2 separate regions of the Homo sapiens genome follow, and region 2 is linked to region 1. The links come from fine-mapping of genetic effects on gene expression. Tissue or cell type: whole blood. Region 1 holds a variant in brackets; the other region holds the start of a gene. All regions are shown on one strand. Distances are from middle to middle.

Region 1 (5,374 bases):
ATCCAAGTGGATAAAAGTGTCTGAAGCTCAGAAGAGAAACCTGAGCTTGAGATATCTCAGCTCCCTGATCTGGAAGTTGTCAATATTAAGATAGTAGGAAGTGGAGAGGCTTTTGTGGTTGCTGTTTTCTCTGAGAGGTAAAGGGACTGGTGGTTTGAAATCAGAGAAGGGTTGAAATAGATTCTGGAGAAGAACAGCAACATTGACAAGGAGATAGGGGGATCATCAGGTACTCTTAGGGGGCACAGTTAAAGGTGGAGCTCTTATGTTGAGTAGTTCCAGCCTTACCATTGCAGAGCCCTGGGGCCCACATTTGTTTCTGGAACTAAAACCACCAGGGGCCCAGTGTCCTTCCTGCTTCTTCCTGCTGAGCCTCCACATCAGGGTTCCATCTCACCACCCAGCAACGTTCCCTGACCTTGAAGCCTATCCTTTATCTAAACGCAACACGCTTTCATCCTTGCTTTCCTGGTTAACTCCTACCCACCTTTCTCTACTCAGATCAGGCCAGGACTTTTTCAGAAGCCTTCCTTGACTGTTCCCCACATCCCCTGCCATGTGAGCAGGAAGTTTCTTCTCTATACCCAAATAGCCCCTCAAATACCTATTACAGCATAAAACATACAGCACTGTATCACTGATTTACTCGGCTGCCTCTCCCACTGGACTGCAACAACTTGAGGGCAGAGTGTTTTCACCTTTATAATGATCACTACTTAGTAGGTAGCTCAATACATGTGAAATTAATATAGGAGAAAAGAACTAAAGTCCAAAACCGACACAATTCTACAGGGTCATGATGTCCCCAGCCCGTGTCACACAAAGATGCTTCTAACCTTAGAAACCAACTCACAAAATAGAGAAATATCCTTTTGGTCTCAATATTATACCCCTTTTCCGTTCAGGAAGAAATCTTAGTAAACCCACAGAAAGGAAATATCCTTACATTATATTAAAGTACATTACCCCTTGCTCTCTCCTCTTCCCAAACACACAAAGCAGGAGGCATTGTATAAAGGCACTTTATTTTAAAATCAACACATCCTGCTTTTATAAATCAGTTACTCTTCATTTCCAACTTCCATCACCTGAGTTTGAGAGCAGAGTGCGTGGTATTTTTCTGGGCTTAAGGTATAAACTGACATGGCATTCAAGAACATGTCCAGCGGGCAGAGCCCATCAGGGCAACCTCTCGGCACCTGCTCCTGCAGAAGAAACATAACTCAGCAGGTCCGCCGAGGAACCTGTCCTTCTGCTATTTCCAGCTAAGCCCAGAGATCTGAGAGGCTCTGATCCATGTGGTATACATGTGCATACATATTACAGACAGGAAGGCCCCACTACCCGGTGAGCTTCCAGAATAAAAGCACTATGCTCTGCTTGTAAAAGTCACTCAAAAAGTGTTGAATTGACTGGGAAGAAAGAGTCGAGTTACATCCCCGAGCTGGGAGAACCAACAGGCTCATCCCTGGGGCGTGCTCTGGCCTCTGCCCTGGACCCCAGCCCTGATGAAGCAGCCAACACCACGGGTGCTAACAGCAGCACACATCACCTCCCAAAGATACCACCAACAATCTCCAAAACAGGTCTCACAGCCAGGAGGCGACATCCTGACAGGGACGCTCAGGAGAAGAGGAGGGGGACCCTGTTCCTAGGAGTCTGTAACAGAACTGGGATAAGGCTCAAGCCCCATCCTGCCACCATCTGTCAAGTTCTGCCTGACCCCTGGGCCATAGCCAGGAGTTGCCCTATAGGATTCAGAGAGCTGACTGTGCCAAGAGAGACTCCACTGGGCCTGAGGAGGGAGACTTGGTGCTAACTCAGGTAGGTGGGTTTTGCAGGAGGGTGCCTCACCACCACCCAACCCCACCTCAGGGGTATTACCTTCCCGTGGTAATAGAGCTGCACAAACCACTCCTTAGATTCCAGGTGCTGGTAAAGTTCCATGGTCAGGTCAACAGCAAACGGTGGCCATTTGTGGTCAAAAATCCCCAGGGTCATTAAGAGCGGTATGAAGGTCACATCATGAGCCGCATAGAGATACAGCTTTCTGCAAGAGGAAACAGCTCTCCACAATTCTCTGCCTCAGGACTCTGAAGGTCAGGATGTGGCCTGCCTCCTTTACGTAAGACACACTTGCCTCAGAAACTAGGTGACATCTAGAAATCAGCTGAGCCTGGTATAAAAGTCCTTTGCAGTAGATCGTGGGAAGAACCCTTGTTCCCACTCCCCGTGTCTTCATGAGGAGGGTCCCCGCCAGAGAAATTCTCCTGGCCTCCTCCTTGCCACCTACTCACTCCTCCCTGGTGAGTTTCAAAGAAGAAACTGAGCGTGTGTGGCTTAGACCCTACCTCTCTTCTCTCTTTGGGTCCTGCCAGCCTACATGAATGCCCTTCCTACTCTCAGCCATGGGATGAGTTTAGTAGGGCTCCTTGTTGGGGAAGCTTGAAGTTTTGGGGTATTAAGTTTATTTCAAAATAATATTCACAAGCCCATTTGGCCCTCAGCACATTCTCCAAATGGCTTTAATCTGTAATAAGAATGCCATTTTAATCTACATCTGCCTGACACCAGTATCCATCTCTTAGGAAAGACCAAGGATTTTATTTATGGACCCCCATCCTAGAAGACTAGCATTGGATCCTGTGGTGTTCTAAAGATCCAAGGCAGAAGGTGGCAAGGTGGCAAAAGCCAGAAAAAATGTACTGTCATTGCAGGTACTGTGAAGGACAGGAAATGGTATTCACAAGATTTGCTATTACAAATCTTGGCCCAAAGTTCCTGTTTCAACTCACTGTCTCCTATTCCTCTTACGCCATCATGAGTTTCTAGCTGT[G/A]ATACCACAACAGTGCTTCTCCAAAATTCAGGTGACTATCAATCACCTGGGGATCTTGTTAAACTGCAGATGCTGATTTAGTAGATCAGGCTGGAGCCTGAGAACCTGATGAGTTCTTGGGCAACGGTGAAGCTGTTTTCCTGCAGAACGCACTTAGCAAGTGCCTAGGACACATAATATTCCACAGCCGTAGTCCCAACCTTGGATTCAAGGCTCCAAAAGTGGCAATGGAGGCTCATGAGCTACTTCCAACATTTTTTTTTTTTGAGACAGAGCCTGGCTCTGTCACCAGGCTGGAGTACAGTGGTGTGATCTTGGCTAACTGCAACCTCCGCCTCCTGGGTTCAAGCAACTCTCCTGACTCAACCTCCCGAGTAGCTGAGACTAAAGGTGCGTGCCACCATGCCCGGATAATTTTTGTATTTTTAGTAGAGCAGGGTTTCACCATGTTGGCCAGGATGTTTTCAATCTCCTGACCTCGTGATCCACTCACCTTGGCCTCCCAAAGTGCTGGGATTACAGGCGTGAGCCACTGCACCTGGCCACTTCCAATATTTTTAAATGCCTTATGGATATCATACCTTCTTTACACTCAATGAAAGTGGTTCAAACTACACAATCCATTAAGCAATTTATCTTTGTTTTGGACTATTATCATATCAAATCAGTGTGACATCATAATTGGCTACTGTTTGACATATCTTCAATTAATAAAAAAAAGAGAGAGAGAAAGCAAAAATAAAATTTTCAAAACATGGTAGGAGGGGTGCAGCAGGAAGAAAGGTTAAAAGATTGTGAACCTCTTTGACACTTGAGGCCTGTTAAACATCTACCTTCGGTCACTGACAGCCTGGTTCTTGCCTCACTAAGATTTGGGTTCCCTCCCTACAGCCAGAAGTTCCCACGGCCCTTAGCTGCACAAAGCAGAGTTGCTGTGCCAGGTACCTGATCTTGTCGGGGGCAGTGGCAGAGTCCATGGCTTTCAGCAGGTTGCTCTCTAGGATGTGGAGGAATGGGCCTACTGCCATCTGAAGACTTTCCCTGTGAAAAGTGAACAACATTTAAGCACCTAGAGGGCACTCAGCATTCAGGGGACACAGACTGATTCTGCCCCCAGGACCTCATGAGTCCAGACAGAGCTGAGAAAAAGGCAAGTAATGCATAAGGGCCAGCAACGGGCCAGAAGGAGAGAAATGGCACCGAGTCCGGTCTTGGGGTCCTCTGTGAATGAAGACTCCCAACAACACAGGCACCAGCACACAGACCTGTTGTGAACACAACTGAGATGGGAGGGGCTGAGGGAGCAGGAGAGTGGTAACCTGGATAAGCCGTGACCAACTAGGCCTTGGGGAATCAAAGAACAAAGCTGACAAGCTGGGAAGAAGAAGGGGTAATAATTTCCAGGAATTCTAGAAGGCCCTTAGAAAAATAATCAGAAGGAACAAGAACATCCTTAATTTTGTTTCCTATGTGCCAGCCTTCCTTCTTTTGGAGTTTGGGCCATAAAGACATTTCTTATTTATGTCTTATTTATTTTACAGAAGAAGTTCAGTGGTCGTGCTCCCAGGCTTGGCTGTGTGGCTCCACCACTTTCATTCTCAGGCCTGTCACATCATGGCCACAGGTGACTACTGCAGCTTAAAGCATGTTCACTCACAGTAGTGAACAAAGTCCACTTACTATAGAAGAAAGAAATGTTTCTCATCTACTCATCCTAGCAGCTGATCAGCTTCCATGGAGACTTCAGAGACTGGTCTTCTCCTTGTTTTTGTGCTTCTCACTTTTTATCAAAGAGAAAAAAACACCCCTCCTAGAATTCCCAGAACCCAGCCACTGACAAATGAAAACAAGGTTGCCATGATTGGCTTAGACAAATCCTTATTTGTGGTGATTGGGTAAATGACCATCTTTATAAGTCAAGGAATGTTGCAGCAATGGATGAAGAGCAGGCAACCAACACTGTATGCAACACATACTTTTCAGAAGAATGTATACAGGCAAAGCCAAGTTGGATGGCCTTGTGAGGTTGTAACCATTTGTCCTTGAAGAAATGTTAGTTTTACAAAACCAGGGCTAATTGGAATGGAATAGACAAGGTCCTGTTTAAAATGATTTACACCAGAATAAAGCAAACTATACCATAGGCCAAATCTGACCAGTTTTGGTAAACAAATTTTACTGGCACACAGCCATGTCTATTTGTTTGCATATTGTCTTTGGTTGCTTCATGTTACAAGGGCAGAGATGAGTAGTTGTAACAGAAATTGCATGATCCTGACAGCTTAAAATATTTACTAAATATGTGTGTGTGTGTTGATAAAGGAGAGGGAAGTAAGTAACAATTTAGGTATGGTGGCACCCCTTCACAAGCAGAAAAGGGAAGCTGGCAAGTCCCAGGGAGTGGCAGCAAGCTGTGTGGCTTGGCAGGAACCTTCTAGATGCCCTAGGCTTGCACAGAAGTGGACACACTGACCCTGAGTGGAAGGAATGCAGTCAGGGGCTCTTATCCTTGGGCACCCAACCGTGCAAATTCTTGAA
Region 2 (5,374 bases), 22 kb after region 1:
GAGGTAATATGCCTTCTCTAATTGCAAAGTCAGGCCATGGATTCAGATGCTATTTTGTGGCTACACAGATTGAAGATGAATGAAGCTGGTATCCTAAGCTACAACGGACCTTTCAACCATAAAGGCAGAAGATATCCATCACACACCCACTCTCCCTTAGGGATAAAGCCCTAAAAGAATCTAAATCTTTTCCTAGTGCCTTCAGGATATATATATATATATATATGGTACATACTAGGTCTAGGCCTACACATTCAAAGTTTTACTCTCCATTACCACTGATAATTTTTTGTCTTCTACGTGAATATAATATATATTCCTACATGTGATTCCCCAGTCCTTCTGTACCAAGAATAAATAGAGAAGAATTGGGGGAAGGGGAGCATCAGAGATGGGCTGTATACAAAATCATAAGGAAAATTTAGTGATCTAATATAAAAAGGCAAAGTAAGAGACTGAAAAAAAAATCAAAGAATCAAAATGAAAGAAGAAATCCCGGTTCCAGAGAGCAAGTGGTAAAGCCAGAGTAAGGCTAACTAGAAACCTGGTAATAGAATTAAGTGCCTTCCAAATGTATTTATTTATGTGGAAAATGCTTTAGAAGTTTAATTTCATGTGCGGCCAACCTTGAAAAATGGGTTTCCAGTTGTACAATGTAAAGACACAATCCTGAAGGTTTCTAGAAAGCAACTGTTATTATGAAGAGTATACCTAACATCAATTTTGGACAATCTTTTCGACCTCCTCCAACATCAACCTGGAAGACCAACGATACAAAAGCACTCCACAGGTGTAATACCTGGGAGTTTGGGGATTTCAGGTTGCCTGTTCCTCTTCACTAGGCCTTTCTGCTATAAAAAGTCACATCCAGGAAAGATAATCATTTTTTTTTAAACTATTTGTGCTTTAGTCATAATTATCCTGACAAAACCAGACAGATTTTTAAAACATTACTGCCACAGACTAGCCCATTTTAAATTTGTTCCGACCTCAGATCCCTCCCACTATAGGTTTAGTAACCTTAAATAGAAAAGGAGAACCCTAGAATACAACACTTGTTACAAAAAAAAACTTCAGGAGATCTCAAATGGCCTCCAGCAAACCCTGAGAAAAAGCAGTTATAAAGTTTGTTTCCAAAGGCAACGACCTCTTATCCACTGTAATCTCAGTTAAGAGTGGTTCCTATCACTAAAGTCCCTTCAGCCCTTCAGCTCTGACAAACCACCTTCAAAATGGTCACACAGAAGTGCACTGCACCCTTGTATTCAAGTTCACCTAGACCCTTAATAGAAATGCTGACCTGGGGCACTACTCCACACCTGCTGAATCAGAATCTGCAACGTAGCAGGATCCCCAGGCGACTCCCATGCGTCTTAAGCAGCGCTTACTGATGGCTGCGCCATCAGGGCAAAACTGGAAGTTCCGGGGCTGTCCTAACCCCAGCAGGTCCTTTGCTCAAGAGCCTGGGGAGTCACTGGCTACTGCTGTTTTCCCTTCTTCTGGACCCAACCCGAGCCCCGCTCCGCGCGAGTAAAGCTCTGAAGATGTGTGTCAGGGCGAGACTCCTGGCCTGGCACACGGTCCTCGCCCCACCAGCCCCAGCCCGGGCCGACCTCTCACCTGCTCCTCCAGCGGGAGCGGCTTGAGAGGACTCCGAGCCCCGTGTCGAAACACGACCTGCACCATTTTCAACTTCAGCAGGCTGCGGTCGACCGGACACTGGCCATCGGCCTCCTGCAGCTCGGCCAGGGCCACCCGCCGCTGGTGCAGGCAGTACGCCAGCGAGGTCAGGACGCCCACTGGGGTCCACAAGCGCATGCTGAACACACCAGTGATCATGGTGGTAGGCCCTCGCTGCCCTCCGGGTTGAGGCTGCAGGAGGCAAACACAAGTCTTCTGCGGGCGCCGGGGCTCAGCGGGCGCCCCCAAGTCCGCGGGAACCTGCGGATGCGTACATCCAGCCCTTCAGCAAGCAGGGACCGCTGTGCCTCCCGGCCCTGAGGGAGACCCCGAGTGGGAACGGGGGAGAGAACAAGAGGTGGCAGCAGCGAAGAGTCCCTGGGAGTTTTAACCCGGGTCGGGGTTGGTCGCTCCTGCTGCACACCGGGCCGGGGGAGATCGGATCCTTATCTTTTGCCCGACGAGGAACATTAAACTTGTATTTCAAGTTTGGCCTCCAGCACTCTTGAAGGAACAGGAGCCGGCCCTGAGTTCCCTGGCGGCAGCGGCTCCACCAGCAAGGACTACTCGATTCCACTTTTCTATAAGCAAGCTCCTACCCACCTCCTCACCTACTCAGGGACCCGTCCCAAGTGGACCCGCGCACAGGAGCACGGGAAAACGAGTCCTGTGGTGACACCTCGCCTGGAGACTCAGAGCTGCGGAAACTACAACTCCCACAAGGCTGCGCGTACCGCGGCTCCCAAGAAGTGGCTTGTACCCGCCCCCCTCGCCTGCGGGCCTCGCCCCTCCGGCCCAGCCAGCCGTTTTCCAGGCGTGGATGGCCCACGGACGTGCCTGGTCCGGCAGTGGAGTGGTAGTGAATCTGTCGGGCCATGGAGTTTGCCAGGCAGGAGGATCGCGAGCGCAGGAGTAGAACTGGGTGGTGGAGGGGAGTAGTTTGAGTCTAGTTTTGAATGTAGAAGACTTCCTTCCAGTCCTGGAAGCCTGGTTGCTGCAGCGAGGAGCTGAGACACCTGCCGAGTGATTGCCATTTGCGAAACACAGCACTAGGTGCTTTATATTTAGTCATTTACTACTCCCTTCTCTGTTTTTAAAAAAATTCTCAAGCTTAAGTCATTGTAATCATGTAGAACTTTCAGGTCACTGATGTGTTTACTTCCATCCAGAATACTTCTTGTGGAAAAAGCCAGGCCTTGCCTGTGGGTGTCCCAGTGATTAAGAACCTAAGAGGCGCCATGGCTCACGCCTGTAATCCCAGCACTTTGGGAGGCCGAGGCGGGTAGATCATGAGGTCAGGAGATCGAGACCATCCTGGCTAACACGGTGAAACCACGTCTCTACTAAAAATACAAAAAAAAAAAAAAAAAAAAATTAGCCAGGCGTGGTGGCGGGCACCTGTAGTCCCAGCTACTCAGGAGGCTGAGGCAGGAGAATGGCGTGAACCCGGGAGGCGGAGCTTGCAGTGAGCCGAGATCGCGCCACACGACTCCAGCTTGGGCAACAGCGCAAGACTCCGTCTACAAAAAAAAAACAAAAAAAAACCTAAGAACACAGAACAATGCCAGCCTTACCACCTGCTAGTCTGGTTTCTGTTGATATACAGGTATCCCAAGCCTGTGTTTCCAGATCTTTGCAACAGGACACAATCTGGGACCCACTATGTGTCTATCTCCAAAGATCAAACTGGGCCAGATGTAAAGACAACATACTTACAGAGCATGGCTCCTGGCCTGAGAACAAATTCTGTTCACCAAGCTGGAAGGTTCTGAGTGCTCCCCTCCCTGATGCAGGGAGGAGGGTCATTTTGGAACACTACATATTGTCACAATTTTCTCCCTAGCCCAGCCAAGGGACTCACTTTTCAGAGTCTTATTGTGTGTGCTGATGTGATTAAAAATCGAATACTGTTTGCTATGGACTCAGTTGTGTCCCCCGCCAAATTCGTACCCACTAAGTGACTGCATTTGGACATAGGACTTTTAGAAGGTGATTCTGTCAGAGGCATTTGAACCATAGTGACTCCATCTTGAATAGCGGCTGGGTAAAATGAGGCTGAGACCTACTGGGCTGCATTCCCAGGAGGTTAGGCATTCTCAGTCACAGGATGAGGGGGGAGGTCAGCAGGACTGGTATCACAAGAAACCAGTCAAAAAGACCCTGCTGATAAAACAGGAAGTGGTAAAGAAGCTGGCCAACACCAACCAAATGCAAGATGTTGATGGAAGTGACCTATGGTCAAACTCACTGCTCATTTTACGTTAATTATAATGCATTAGCATGCTAAAAGACACTCCCATCAGCACTATGACAATTTACGAATGTCGGGGCCAGCAGTTACCCTATATGGCCTAAAGTGGGGAGGAACCCTCAGTTCCAGGAAATCCCACTCCTTTCCCAGAAAATTCATGAATAATCCACCCCTTGTTTGGCATATAATTAAGAAATAACCATAAGTATTTTCAGTTGAGCAGCCCATGCCCCTGCTCTGTCTATGGAGTAGCCATTCTTTTGTTTCTCTTTTTCTCTAATAAACTTGCTTTCACTTTATGGACTCGCCCCAAATTCTTTCTTGCCCGAGGTCCAAGAACTCTCTCTTGGAGTCTGGATCAGGACCCCTTTCCAGTAGCAATTTTGGTTAAGTGAAGATATAAATGTGAGGTCCTAATCCAGTAGGATTGATGGCTTTATAAGAAGAGAAAGAAGGATCTCTCTCTCCACACAGGAGATCTGATGGTTTTATAAGTTTTTGGAAATTCCTCCTTCTTTCTCCTCTCTGGTCTGCCAACTTGTGAAAAAGGTGCCTGCTTCCCCTTCTGCCATGATTATAAGTTTCCTGAGGCCTCCCCCTGTCCTCAGCCATGCAGAACTGTGAGTAAATTTACTCCTTTGTTTATAAATTGTAGTATCTTTATAGCAGTGTGAAAACGGACTAATACAGCAATGGTCCTGTCAGGGCTCATGTGTCCTGTTGGAGGGGGAGTGTGGGGAAGTGTGGGGAACAACTTAGCAGCAGATCTCCAAAAGAAACCAGAGTGAGGGTGGAAAATAGCTGATTTCATGTGGTTGTTAAAAGCACTGTTTGTCAACACATGTGAGACAAACCATGGGGAGTCCAGATGTATTTTGTGTGTGATAGTAGTGGCAGTGAGCTGCAATTTAAAAGAGGCTGGGCCGGGCGCGGTGGCTCACGCCTGTAATCCCAGCACTTTGGGAGGCTAAAGCAGGCAGATCACCTGAGGTCAGGAGTTTGAAACCATCCTGGGCAACATGGTGAAACGCTGTCTCTACCAAAAATACAAAAATTAGCCGGGTGTGGTGGCACACATCTGTAATCCCAGCTACTCGAGAGGCTGAGGCAGGAGAATCGCTTGAACCTGGGGGCAGAGGTTGTAGTGAGCCGAGATTGCACCACTGCCCTCCAGCCTGGGCGGCAAAGTGAGATTCCATCTCAAAAAAAAAAAAAAAAAAAAAAAGAGAGAGAGAGAGAGAGAGAGAAAGAGAGAGACTGGAAGTCCTGACCCAGGGTAGGACCGTGTGGGTGGGGGTGTTAGGGTGGTTGCAGGAAGCAGGGGAACACTGAGTAGCTGTTATTTTGACCCTGGTTTTAAACTACCAGGCAGGGATGGCTCGGGAAATAAGCCCTTTCCCAGCCAAATTGTCTTCAGAGGATTGCATTTAATATTATGTAAAA

Evidence for each region.
Region 2: it holds the start of ACP6, and the variant in region 1 is fine-mapped to the expression of ACP6 in whole blood (TOPMed, PIP above 0.99).

The regions. Positions count from the first base shown.
Region 1 is chr1:147,646,362-147,651,735 of GRCh38, forward strand. It overlaps ACP6 (acid phosphatase 6, lysophosphatidic), which reads right to left. Exons shown (of 10, transcript NM_016361.5): 8 at 3,782-3,877; 9 at 1,885-2,050; 10 at 1-1,205. The coding sequence ends at 1,062. Among named protein-coding and RNA genes, the nearest start is that of ACP6, 21 kb to the right of the region's middle. The variant G/A (reference allele first, on the strand shown) is at 2,837.
Region 2 is chr1:147,668,210-147,673,583 of GRCh38, forward strand. ACP6 (acid phosphatase 6, lysophosphatidic) reads right to left here and starts at 2,315. Exons shown (of 10, transcript NM_016361.5): 1 at 1,621-2,315. The coding sequence starts at 1,839. RefSeq lists enhancers at 1,163-2,106, 1,318-1,377, 2,018-2,267, 2,708-2,777.